Regions from separate parts of the Homo sapiens genome. Here region 1 is linked to region 2. The links come from fine-mapping of genetic effects on gene expression. A gene starts in region 2. The other region holds a variant in brackets. All regions are shown on one strand. Distances are from middle to middle. Region 1 has its middle 72 kb from the start of DACH1. Region 2 holds the start of DACH1 (dachshund family transcription factor 1).

The links.
Region 1: its variant is fine-mapped to the expression of DACH1 in blood mononuclear cells (TOPMed, PIP above 0.99). The same link has a PIP of 0.9 or more in whole blood.

What each region holds. Positions count from the first base shown.
Region 1 is chr13:71,936,417-71,941,794 of GRCh38, reverse strand. No RefSeq gene overlaps it. Among named protein-coding and RNA genes, the nearest start is that of DACH1, 72 kb to the right of the region's middle. The variant T/C (reference allele first, on the strand shown) is at 2,513.
Region 2 is chr13:71,864,571-71,869,948 of GRCh38, reverse strand. DACH1 (dachshund family transcription factor 1) reads left to right here and starts at 2,745. Exons shown (of 11, transcript NM_080759.6): 1 at 2,745-4,027. The coding sequence starts at 3,180.

The DNA of each region.
Region 1 (5,378 bases), 72 kb before region 2:
CTACCTGGAAATCTTCTTAGTTAGATCATCCAATTTACCAGATATGTTTTCCTTTTTCCACGTTACCTCAGGCAATAGTGTTGTAAACTTTCTGTCACTGCATAACAATAATCCCCTTATTTCTTGGTTCCAATATCATTTTTGTCACTTTTACTTAAACTCTTACTGACAGTCTCTTCTGGGGCAATCAAACTTTCATTAAGAAAAGCCCTTTAGATTTTCACTAACACTCTCCTCAAAGTTCTTCCAGTTTCTACCTACCGCCTGCTCCCAAAGCCAGTTTTTAAGTTTGTTATAACAGCATACAACTTCTGGGACCAAAATCTGTTACAATTACTGTGGTTGCATCACAAACCACCCCAAAACTTAGTTGCTTGAAAAGTAAACATATTTTGCTTTATTAATCTGCACATTTTACAGTCTCCAGAGAGATAGCTCATCACTGCTGCACTCAACATCAACTGAGGTGGCTCAAAGGCTGGAAGCTCGAGTCATCTGTAAGCTTTCTCAATTCCATGTCTAGAAATTGATACTGGCAATCTTCTGGGATTTTTGTGGGGTTTGTTGGGCAGATCACCTAATCTAGCTCTTCTAGGTAGCTTAGGTAGCCATACAACATGGTGGCCAGATTCAAGTGCAAGTATCCCAAGAGAGATGGTCAAAGAGAAGGTATATCTATTTTAACACCTACTCTTTAGAGATGCTCAGTGTCACTTATGCCACATTCTATTCATTATGGCAGTCACAAAGGCCAGTACAGTTTCAATGGAAGGGGAAACAGAGTCTAATTCTTGATGAGGACTAATGGAGTTTTAGAAGAGAATTTGGAACCAGAAATATTGCTCTCCATTTTGGATAATAGAGTCTTATGATCTGCCACATACTGTCACCCCTTTCTTTTTTTTTTTTTTTTTTTTTTTTTTGAGATGGAGTCTCGCTCTGTCACCCAGGCTGCAGGCTGGAGTGCGGTGGCGCGATCTCCACTCACTGCAAGCTCCACCTCCCAGGTTCATGCCATTCTCCTACCTCAGCCTCCCGAGTAGCTGGGACTACAGGCGCCCGCCACCACACCCGGCTAATTTTTTGTATTTTTAGTAGAGATGGGGTTTCACCGTGTTAGCCAGGATGGTCTCGATCTCCTGACCTCGTGATCCGCCCACCTTGGCCTCCCAAAGTGCTGGGATTACAGGCGTGAGCCACTGTGCCTGGCCACTGTCACCCCTTTCTTACCTTAAATTTATATCTCAACTAACTATAATCTTGCATTTTTTCCCATTTTCATTTATTATGGCTCTTATTTAGTCCAGGGTTCTGTAATTATTGCAGTTCATTGCAGCCCTTGCATGCACACATGCGTGTGTCTGAATATTATTTACATTCAAATGGGAGAAAAAGAATTGGAAATAAGCCACAGCCTCTATCTCATTAGTTTTTCTTTGTTGTTTTGTTTTCTTTTGTTTTGTTTTTGAGACAGAGTCTGGCTCTGTCATTCAGGCTGGAGTGCAGTGGCACGATCTCGGCTCACTACAACCTCTGCCTCCCAGGTTCAAGCGGTTCTCCTGCCTCAGCCTCCTGAGTAACTGGGACTACAGGAACGTGCCACCACACCTGGCTAATTTTTTGTATTATTAGTAGAGACAGTTTTCCACTATGTTGGCCAGGCTGGTCTTGAACTCCTGACCTCAAGTGATCCACCTGCCTTGGCCTCCCAAAGTGCTAGGATTACAGGCATGAGCCACCATGCTCAGCCTATTCCCTTAGTTTTTGTTAGACAGTCACAGGGTGCATATCAGCAGATGTTAGATACCTTAGGTGCTGATTTTTGAGCTATTGTCTTTTATGTTTCCCACCCACCCACCTTATATGCTCTGCAAAACCATATTTCTCTCTTACCAACTGGCTCTCTGTTAGACTTCTACTCATAGGTGCTAGAGGCAACTTGAAGGAGAAAAAGGCAAAAGAAGGTTGTCATTCTCTCCTGTTTGCTTTCAGCTCCTCTCAGCAATACCCAGCAACATTTCTTCATCCTGACAATAAATGTTTGCTCTGGTAGCAATAACTAATTCCACTTTGCATTTGCTCCAACACTTTCAGAAATAACTTCCCCAACCCCACTAAAAATGGAAGCATCAATTGGCTGATACCCCCTCTTCAGAGGATAGAGTCCCAGCCCTGTAGTGCCCCTCCTCCTAGATCAGAGCCACCCCCATCCCCTCCTCCTAGATCAGAGACACCCACACCACGTAGTAGCACATCCTTCTCGAAGGACTGACTTACAATTTTGTGTGACCCCTTCTCCAACACTCAGGTTGCAATAATAGCCCCTTCTTCTGTTTCTCCAGTCCTGGGAGTGGAAGCTGCTTTTTGTGGTTTCTACCTCTGTGATAATTTATGTACCCTTTGTGCCCTTTCACTTCTTCATTACATGCTTAACAATGCTCAATGCCAAATTTTTTCTCTTGAAATAACTGGTGTGGTTTCTGGAATCTGAAATGAACACTAACGGATATAA[T/C]TGACATGCTTTATGTCTCCTGCAAAAAACACCATACAGAAATTTACCTTCCTTTATGGTTAAATCGCTTTACTTCAACCTCCCTCACTTTTTTCTGAGAGGGGATATACAAGAATAAAATAATTTAAAACTGTAAAGTTCTTTGAAGTGCAGTAAAAAAAGTAATTGTGTGTATTATATTTTAAAAATAAAAATGGTGACAAAATAATGCTAAGAATAAAACTAAACAAACAAAAAAATACCACAAATTTTATCATATTTTTCCTTGCTTTCATGAATTTTGCATTGTCTCTATGAGTCAGAGTGGTGAAAGTGATGTATGAAGTCACCAGAGAATCAGTGTCTGGTTGCATTAAAGTCCTTATTTTAGCAAAATTTGGCATATACACTACCTCTTTTGTCACAAATAACATACATGAAATACACTTAAATTTCATTTAATGTTGGATAGTCTATATTGTTTTCAAGATGACACAAATAAAATTATCTCTGCAATAGCATTATTTATAATAATGAAAACTTATGGCTCCAAATTAGATTTATGTGTGATATGTTTAATGTAACAATTTTCTAGAAAGCAAGAAAGTAATGTTACCTTACCTTTTATATTATAGGCATTAATATTATATTAATAGGCATTATATATTATAGGCATTAACAGGAATAAGTAGGAAAAAAAAAACTATGTTGTTTTGATATTATTTGTATTTTCCTCCAAGTTCTTATCAATAATAGTTTTAACATACTGATATATTTATACCTTTTAACCTTGCAAAGGATTTAAAAATTTTTTATCTCTAGTTCATAAAACTAACTTACTATCCTCAACCCCTTTGCTGCACTGATTTTTACCTCCTCGATTTTTGTGTATAAAAAGTCAAACTCTCCCTGGGGTGATAGGGCATTTGTCCCGTGTTGTGTGTACTTTTGGCTGTCTTAGAGAACGTGAGAAGAGGGAATGGTGACTTCCGTTTTGGTGTAGTTTCTAGAAACGTTGCTCATTTATTTCCACTTGCTTTGTCAGAGCTAGGTCAACCCTAGAGGCACTCTTTCCCACTCTTTTTTGTAAAAAGGAAGAAAGGGCAACGGATAATTAGGGAACACGGACTCAGACATTAAAGAAAAAGATGAGCCTACTGATAATGGGAACCTTAAGGGCTGTACTGTTTAAGTATCTGACTCATAGGAGCCACTCAAATAATAATTAAATAAATGTTTTAAGTTTTCCTGGGTGAGTGAACTTTTCATGTTGGCAGGAGCCTCAATCACCTATGAATTTCCTAAGGAAAATGTTTAGGTTATCCTTGGATTTCCTCGAATGCAGAAAGGATGGTTGTTTTCTTAATTCAAACATTGAAAAACAAACAAACAAACAAACAAACAAACAAAAACCCACGGAGAAACTTCACCCTAGTGAATGCAATTCTGTAGACAGAAATTGTTAAGAATATAGGAAAGGTCAATACTTAAACGTGAAGACAGAATTTTGTCAAAAATAAAGTTATAGTTTAAAAAAGCAGCAGGTAGGTTTTAACTTACCTATTGTGGAATTTAACAGGCAAATCTCAAATCTTAGGGGTACACATTGCAGGAAAACATACACAGTATTCGTGAAACATGGCATTGAGCTACAACCCAGGACTGTGTGGTAGTAGACAGGAAAGAAGTAGAAGCAGATTTACTGGTATTTTCCCCATAATTTGGCAATCCTGGGTCTTTATGCAGCTAGACTTTGGAAAATCAGCAAATGAAGATGCAACTGTCAGACTCACAACTGTCACAATTAACCTCAGCCAGAAATTCTAGGGACTGTCTTTGATGCTAATCATTTAGCTTGCCTGAAAACTAAAAGGACTTTGGTAGAAAATTAAAAATACAGGAAGACAAAATATACAAGGTAGAGGTTTATGTCTTGGAGAAAATATATCTAAAGAAACAATTTGAGTCTCTTTTGCTTTATTTTGTTTTGGTTATAGTTTGTTTTTGTGCATTTCAACTGCAGGTAAAAGATTTATGGTAATAAATCTCCAAGTGGGAGGAAACTGCATGAGATCATTTTCACAGTTCTCTCACTAGGAAGGTAAGATATTATGTATCTATTATAGAAAATAGACAACAGAGCTCTAAGAGTGGGTAAAGAAATTGCCCTTGGTCACATATGGTAGTGAAGTCGGAGACTAGAACCCAGATCTCATGTTTCTCATTTTTAGAATTTTCCACTATGTATGCTTCTGATTTCTTAAAGTATGAGCCATTAAACAAATCTAGCACTATGTATTCAAAATACACTTTGAAAATCTCTAAGGTTATCTAAAGTTACCAGTAACAGAAGATGGAGTCTAAGTTATATTCTTTTGCATGTGATTTTAAGGTTTTGAAAAACATGAGGTCAAAATGTTCCTATCCATTAGTTCTGAAAATGCCCTCATTTGACTGTGATTGACAATTTTTGGCAATGATTGATGGACTCTGATGCTCAGTGATAAAAAATGACAGCCTTAAGTGTTTTGAAGAAGTTACATTTCAAAGGAATTAAGTTGCTAATGGATTAACAGTGGTCAATGAAGAAAAAGTCCACCACTACTTTCTACATTACTGGACTATCATTTGTCATAGAATACTGATGATCATTCTCACAAGTTCTTTCCGAGATTTCAATGAAACAGAATTATCTTTCAGGCAAGACTTTATTTTATTATGAATCCTAAGTTAACCCATTAAGTCAGCCACTATGCCCTAGGATGTGATAGTTCACTGGAGACAGCACTAGTTCGCTAGGGCACTTCCTTCATTAACATCAGCTCTTTTGATAGACCCAGAGTACATTTTCTCAAACTCACACAAAATGACAGGACAGTTAGACCAA
Region 2 (5,378 bases):
CAAAACACAGGGAGAATTTTCTAATATCAGTTACAGTACTTTGAGTTTTGCTTATGCAAATTGAGTGAAGGTTGGGGAAGATGAGATGGAGAGGACCTGAAACAAGCGGAGATGTAAAACAATAAACAAGCAAGACAAAAGCTCTAAAAGCTAAAGATGCAATGGAGTGAGAATTCAAAATCTCTAAGTTGATTTATCTGTTGTTGTTAAATAACTGTTTGCCTTACTCATTGGCAACATTTCTCAAAAAGAAAGAAAGAAAAAGAAAAAAAAAGGAAAGAAAAAAGAGATAAAACCTTCAAAATTTTCAAGGCTTTTATTTCCTACATATTTTAATTTGTGCTATATGCCTTTTCTAATCCTATTGTTTGATTGAAGGGGTAAGTGGTGGTTCCCTGAACTGATTTTGAGACCTGAGGTCAGGAGAAGGAAGGCTGGAGAGCTCTTATTCAGGTGGGGGCAAATGTCTCTCAGCCCTGCTTCTGAGTGGAGCACGTGCTCGGAGGCAAAGGTTTCCCTGCAGTAGAAAATTTGGAGTTTGCTTCGAAGCAAGGTGGGATTATGGCTTGGGCTGCTATCATTACCTCCTGTCTGTAGCTTCCGAATGTGTCAGGTATTGGGTGAGTGATAGTTTAAGGAAATGTAAAAAATGAGAATGGTAATGGCAGATGCTCGGCATTTAATTCCCATTCTTCCATTTGTGGGTCTAGAACTTAAAATAATGAGACTATAGTTTAGTCTTTTAAAACCATATCAAAATTTATTAAAGTTAGGCATAGAATTCGAAAATAAAATTAGCTTTTCAGGGCTTAATACTTTCTTCCTCCCCTCCCCTCATTATAATAGTAGTTTGGTATGTCTTAAAAAAGTAATATTTTCTAAAACATGCAAAAATACTTAAGGAAGTGTTTTGATGTATGTGATATATATTGAATTCCTACTTTTACCCATAACAAATTTGAAGACTGAAACATAAATAAAAATTATTTCTGAATGTATTACAATACATTGGTTAACCAGGCCAAACAACTGTTTAAACTTTAGTTGTCCTTGCAGAAGTTCATGGACTTTTCTGCAACAATCGATTTTCTGAATTCTTATCTCCCAGGAAAGCCTCCTGATTTAACTGCTATGTCCCAAAAATTTTAGTATAATCATACACTAATTAGTCCATAGTGTCATATTTCTATTTTTCGGTAGACAGTTCCTGCACTATTTGACACTGCGATTCACAGAGTTCAAAGGCTTAAAATGATATAGAGAAATGTGATCATTTCAACACCAGAATGGCAAAAATTTTATTATAAAATTTCCCAACCCTGTGAACCTGCTACTAACAGTTTATTTTAAAAATCTGTCAAATGCTAAAGCATTGCTTCATATCTTATGAACTTACTGAACATGTGTGGACCGGTTCAAAGGCTAACTAATTGAAGATACTTGGAGACATGAGCAGCAAATAGATTTGACCCATATTCAAATGATATGTTAGTCAAAAATCCTTGAATAAATACTTCAGTGCAACAAGTTAGAAAAGAAAAGAAAAGGAAAGAGGAAGGAAAGGAGGAATAGAGTCAGTCTAAACTCAGCCTCATGTTGTTTTAAGCACAGCTACCCAAGTCTTTACAAGTCAACTAGTGAGCTTTGTTTTTGTTCTTCCCATTATTTACAAAACATATATTTACTGACAAATTGAAAAGGACTTTCCAAAACTACAGCAGCACTTTTCAAACATGAAAAAAAAAAAAAAAAAACTATTGTGTTGTCCAAAAAACACATTAGCAATTGGCTTTGGGTCTTAAAGGACATGAGGATAGTTGGTTACTGTGTAAGACAGGTGAATTAATTATAGAGTTTTGGGTAAGAAAACCCTTTTTCCACTTTCTAAATCTTCAAGGATACCTTATCTCCTTGATAGCTCTAGGTTTAACAGGTATTTCTGACTGGCTTTTGGGGAGACAGTGAAGTTATTCTAAATCATCCACATCAAGGCAAGCATTTCTTTCCACAACCTATTAGGAAATATGGAATTGAATACAGAGCTTTCCATTATTCTTAAGCGATTTCGGACTGACTTTCTTCTCACCACTTGAAAACTGTCCTGGAATTTTCACTATCTTTATATAAATAAATAATTTAGTAGAGAAATAAACAATCAGATGCAAAAGAACATTACGCTTTGCTTACATGTGAATTTTCCTCAAAATAATTTCTGAATAATCGTGAAGTGGGGGCTGTGTTTTCGTTTCTAGCTCATTGCCAAAACGCGTGGAGATGGATCCTAAATCCTGGAAGGAGAGAGCTCGGCGCGCTCAGGCTCCTCTTTAAGTTGGCGGGCGATTGTTTAGAAGCTTTGGAAAAAATTACCAGTCCCCGCGGACGAAATGGAATGTGAGACATGCAATCTAACGGTAGTAGTAGAAGAGAAGTAGATGATCTCCCTCTCCTTTTCCGATCGCCACTTCTGTGTCCCCGGCTTTTCCTCTCCGTCCCTCCCACAGTTTCTTTCCGTATCCTCCCCCTCCCCTCCTCCTTTCCTCGCACGCTCCCTCTCCAGTGTCTCGCGCTCTCGGAGTCTCTGCTCCGAGTTCCTGGTTGGATAATTTGGGTTAATACTAGTGAGTGAGGTTTTTGCGGCTTCAAAGGGTATTTCAAGTTTCCGGAGCTCCTCCCCTCTGCACCGTGTGACAACAACAACTCGTCCAGCCGGCAGCCTGCACTTTTCAGCTCATTTTCTCTCTGTCATTCCCCTCTCAATCTTTGATCAATGTACTTGCCAGGGAGAGCCCAAGTCCTTCAAACCTCCTCCTTTTCACCTTCATCCTTAACTTTGTGCTAGAGCGAGACCCACACAACAACAGCCGACCCTCCCCGCCCCACCCCCACCCCCAAACCAGCCCTCGATCCCAGCCCCCGGAGAGGACTCGCATTTCGACTTGCGGGACACTTTTGTGCGTTCCTCTCCAGAGCGCCTCTCGTGCTCGCCCCTCTTGCGCTCGCTCTTTATTACCTTCACCTCCTTTTCTCCCCCTTCTCTCCCTTTCTCCTTCTCGTTCTCTCCCGGAGTTGTTGTTGCCCCCCTCGCTCCTTCTCCCCCCTTTTTTCCCCTTCCCCTCCCGGGGGTGTGTGGCAACTTTTCCTCTCGCTTCTCCTCCGTCTGTTTCCCCTTATATGTGACCATGGCAGTGCCGGCGGCTTTGATCCCTCCGACCCAGCTGGTCCCCCCTCAACCCCCAATCTCCACGTCTGCTTCCTCCTCTGGCACCACCACCTCCACCTCTTCGGCGACTTCGTCTCCGGCTCCTTCCATCGGACCCCCGGCGTCCTCTGGGCCAACTCTGTTCCGCCCGGAGCCCATCGCTTCGGCGGCGGCGGCGGCGGCCACAGTCACCTCTACCGGCGGCGGCGGCGGCGGCGGCGGCAGCGGAGGCGGCGGCGGCAGCAGCGGCAACGGAGGCGGCGGTGGCGGCGGCGGCGGTGGCAGCAACTGCAACCCCAACCTGGCGGCCGCGAGCAACGGCAGCGGCGGCGGCGGCGGCGGCATCAGCGCTGGCGGCGGCGTCGCTTCCAGCACCCCCATCAACGCCAGCACCGGCAGCAGCAGCAGCAGCAGTAGCAGCAGCAGCAGCAGCAGCAGTAGTAGCAGCAGCAGCAGTAGCAGCAGCAGCTGCGGCCCCCTCCCCGGGAAACCCGTGTACTCAACCCCGTCCCCAGTGGAAAACACCCCTCAGAATAATGAGTGCAAAATGGTGGATCTGAGGGGGGCCAAAGTGGCTTCCTTCACGGTGGAGGGCTGCGAGCTGATCTGCCTGCCCCAGGCTTTCGACCTGTTCCTGAAGCACTTGGTGGGGGGCTTGCATACGGTCTACACCAAGCTGAAGCGGCTGGAGATCACGCCGGTGGTGTGCAATGTGGAACAAGTTCGCATCCTGAGGGGACTGGGCGCCATCCAGCCAGGAGTGAACCGCTGCAAACTCATCTCCAGGAAGGACTTCGAGACCCTCTACAATGACTGCACCAACGCAAGGTGAGTCGGGGGGGATAGCCCCCGCCGCCCGCGCCCCTTCCCACCAGCCTGCTCGCCTGCCCTCGCTCCTTTCCCGGCGCCGCTCGCTCTGCGCGCCCGCGAGCCGCGCGCCCCGGCGAGCGCGGCCCTCTCCTCTCCCTGCTCGGGGCTCGCCAGCCGCGCCCGACCCCCTGAGAAGTTGGCACCTCACCCTGCCCAGACCTCGCTCTTCGGCCCGGTCCTCCCCTTGCCCTCTGGGTCCCGGGGATGGGCTGCTGTGGGATGTGGGAAAGCCGAGCCTCGGGGCGGAGGGGACGAGAGGGAGGAGGACGGCGCCTTTGCTGGAGCCACAGCCCCCTGCCCCGGGCGCGCGGGCGCCTGGAGACCCCTCTCAGCGCTGCTGTCCGCGTTCGTGCGCTCCCCAGGACCTGGGTTCCACGGCCAGCCTCCCGGCACCGACAGGGCTGATCTGTGGCGCCGAGCGGTGTCCCGGGGGCGGGGGGAGGTCGTGACCTGCTCCGCAGGGCTCGGGGAGCGGGGAGACGCGCTCCGGGTGAGGGCCCCGCTGGGAAAGGCGAGGGAGCGGACCAGCACCCGAGGAGGGCACTTTGAGGTCGGGAGGGAAATGACCCGCGAAGCTGAGAGACCGGGTCCATCCCGGGGGATGGGCTCCGGGGACTTGAGCTCCGAAGCCCGGAGGGGAAGCCAGCCGAGGGGAGGGGTCTGTGTGTTCGCGCATGTGTGCGTGTGTCCGCGTGTGAGCGAGTGCGTGTGCAAAGGAAATAAAGGGGTACGGTGGCCCCGGGGCAGATGCGAGGGCAACCAGCAGGTTTTCTTCGGTAGGGGGAGGTGACCGATTGCCCGAGACTCAATGGAAGCTGAACTGGAGAGATTAGGAAGGAAAGCCACGGAGCGCGCTCTCTCTCGATCTCTCTTTCGAGTTCTCTGTCTCTTTCTCTCCAAAGTGTGTTTTCTTTCTGTCTTTCTCTCTCTTTTCTTTTCTTAAAGGTTAGTAGCTTAAGCAGCGAGCAGGTGCACACTTTGCACTGGGATGCTCAGCGGCCCTGATACTCTGTGCCTTGGCTTCCCCAGCCCAGCAAAGCGCGCGCACGGAGGAGGCGGCGGGACCGGTCCCCAGCCAGACCAGTTTTATGCTAATGAACGCTCAGTGGGGGAGGATCTACCAAGAGGGGGCGGGAGTGGGGCAACTTGTCAGTTTCGGGGTAGAGATGATCATTCCACCCCCTTTCACAGCGCCGCTTTGTCCCCACGGTTCTCTGCAAGGAAGCGCAGAGGCAAAAGTTCAGAGTGAGATTCCGGGAGAAAGAAAATAGGGAAAGTTGAAGACCTGAAGCGGGCACGTGGGAACTGC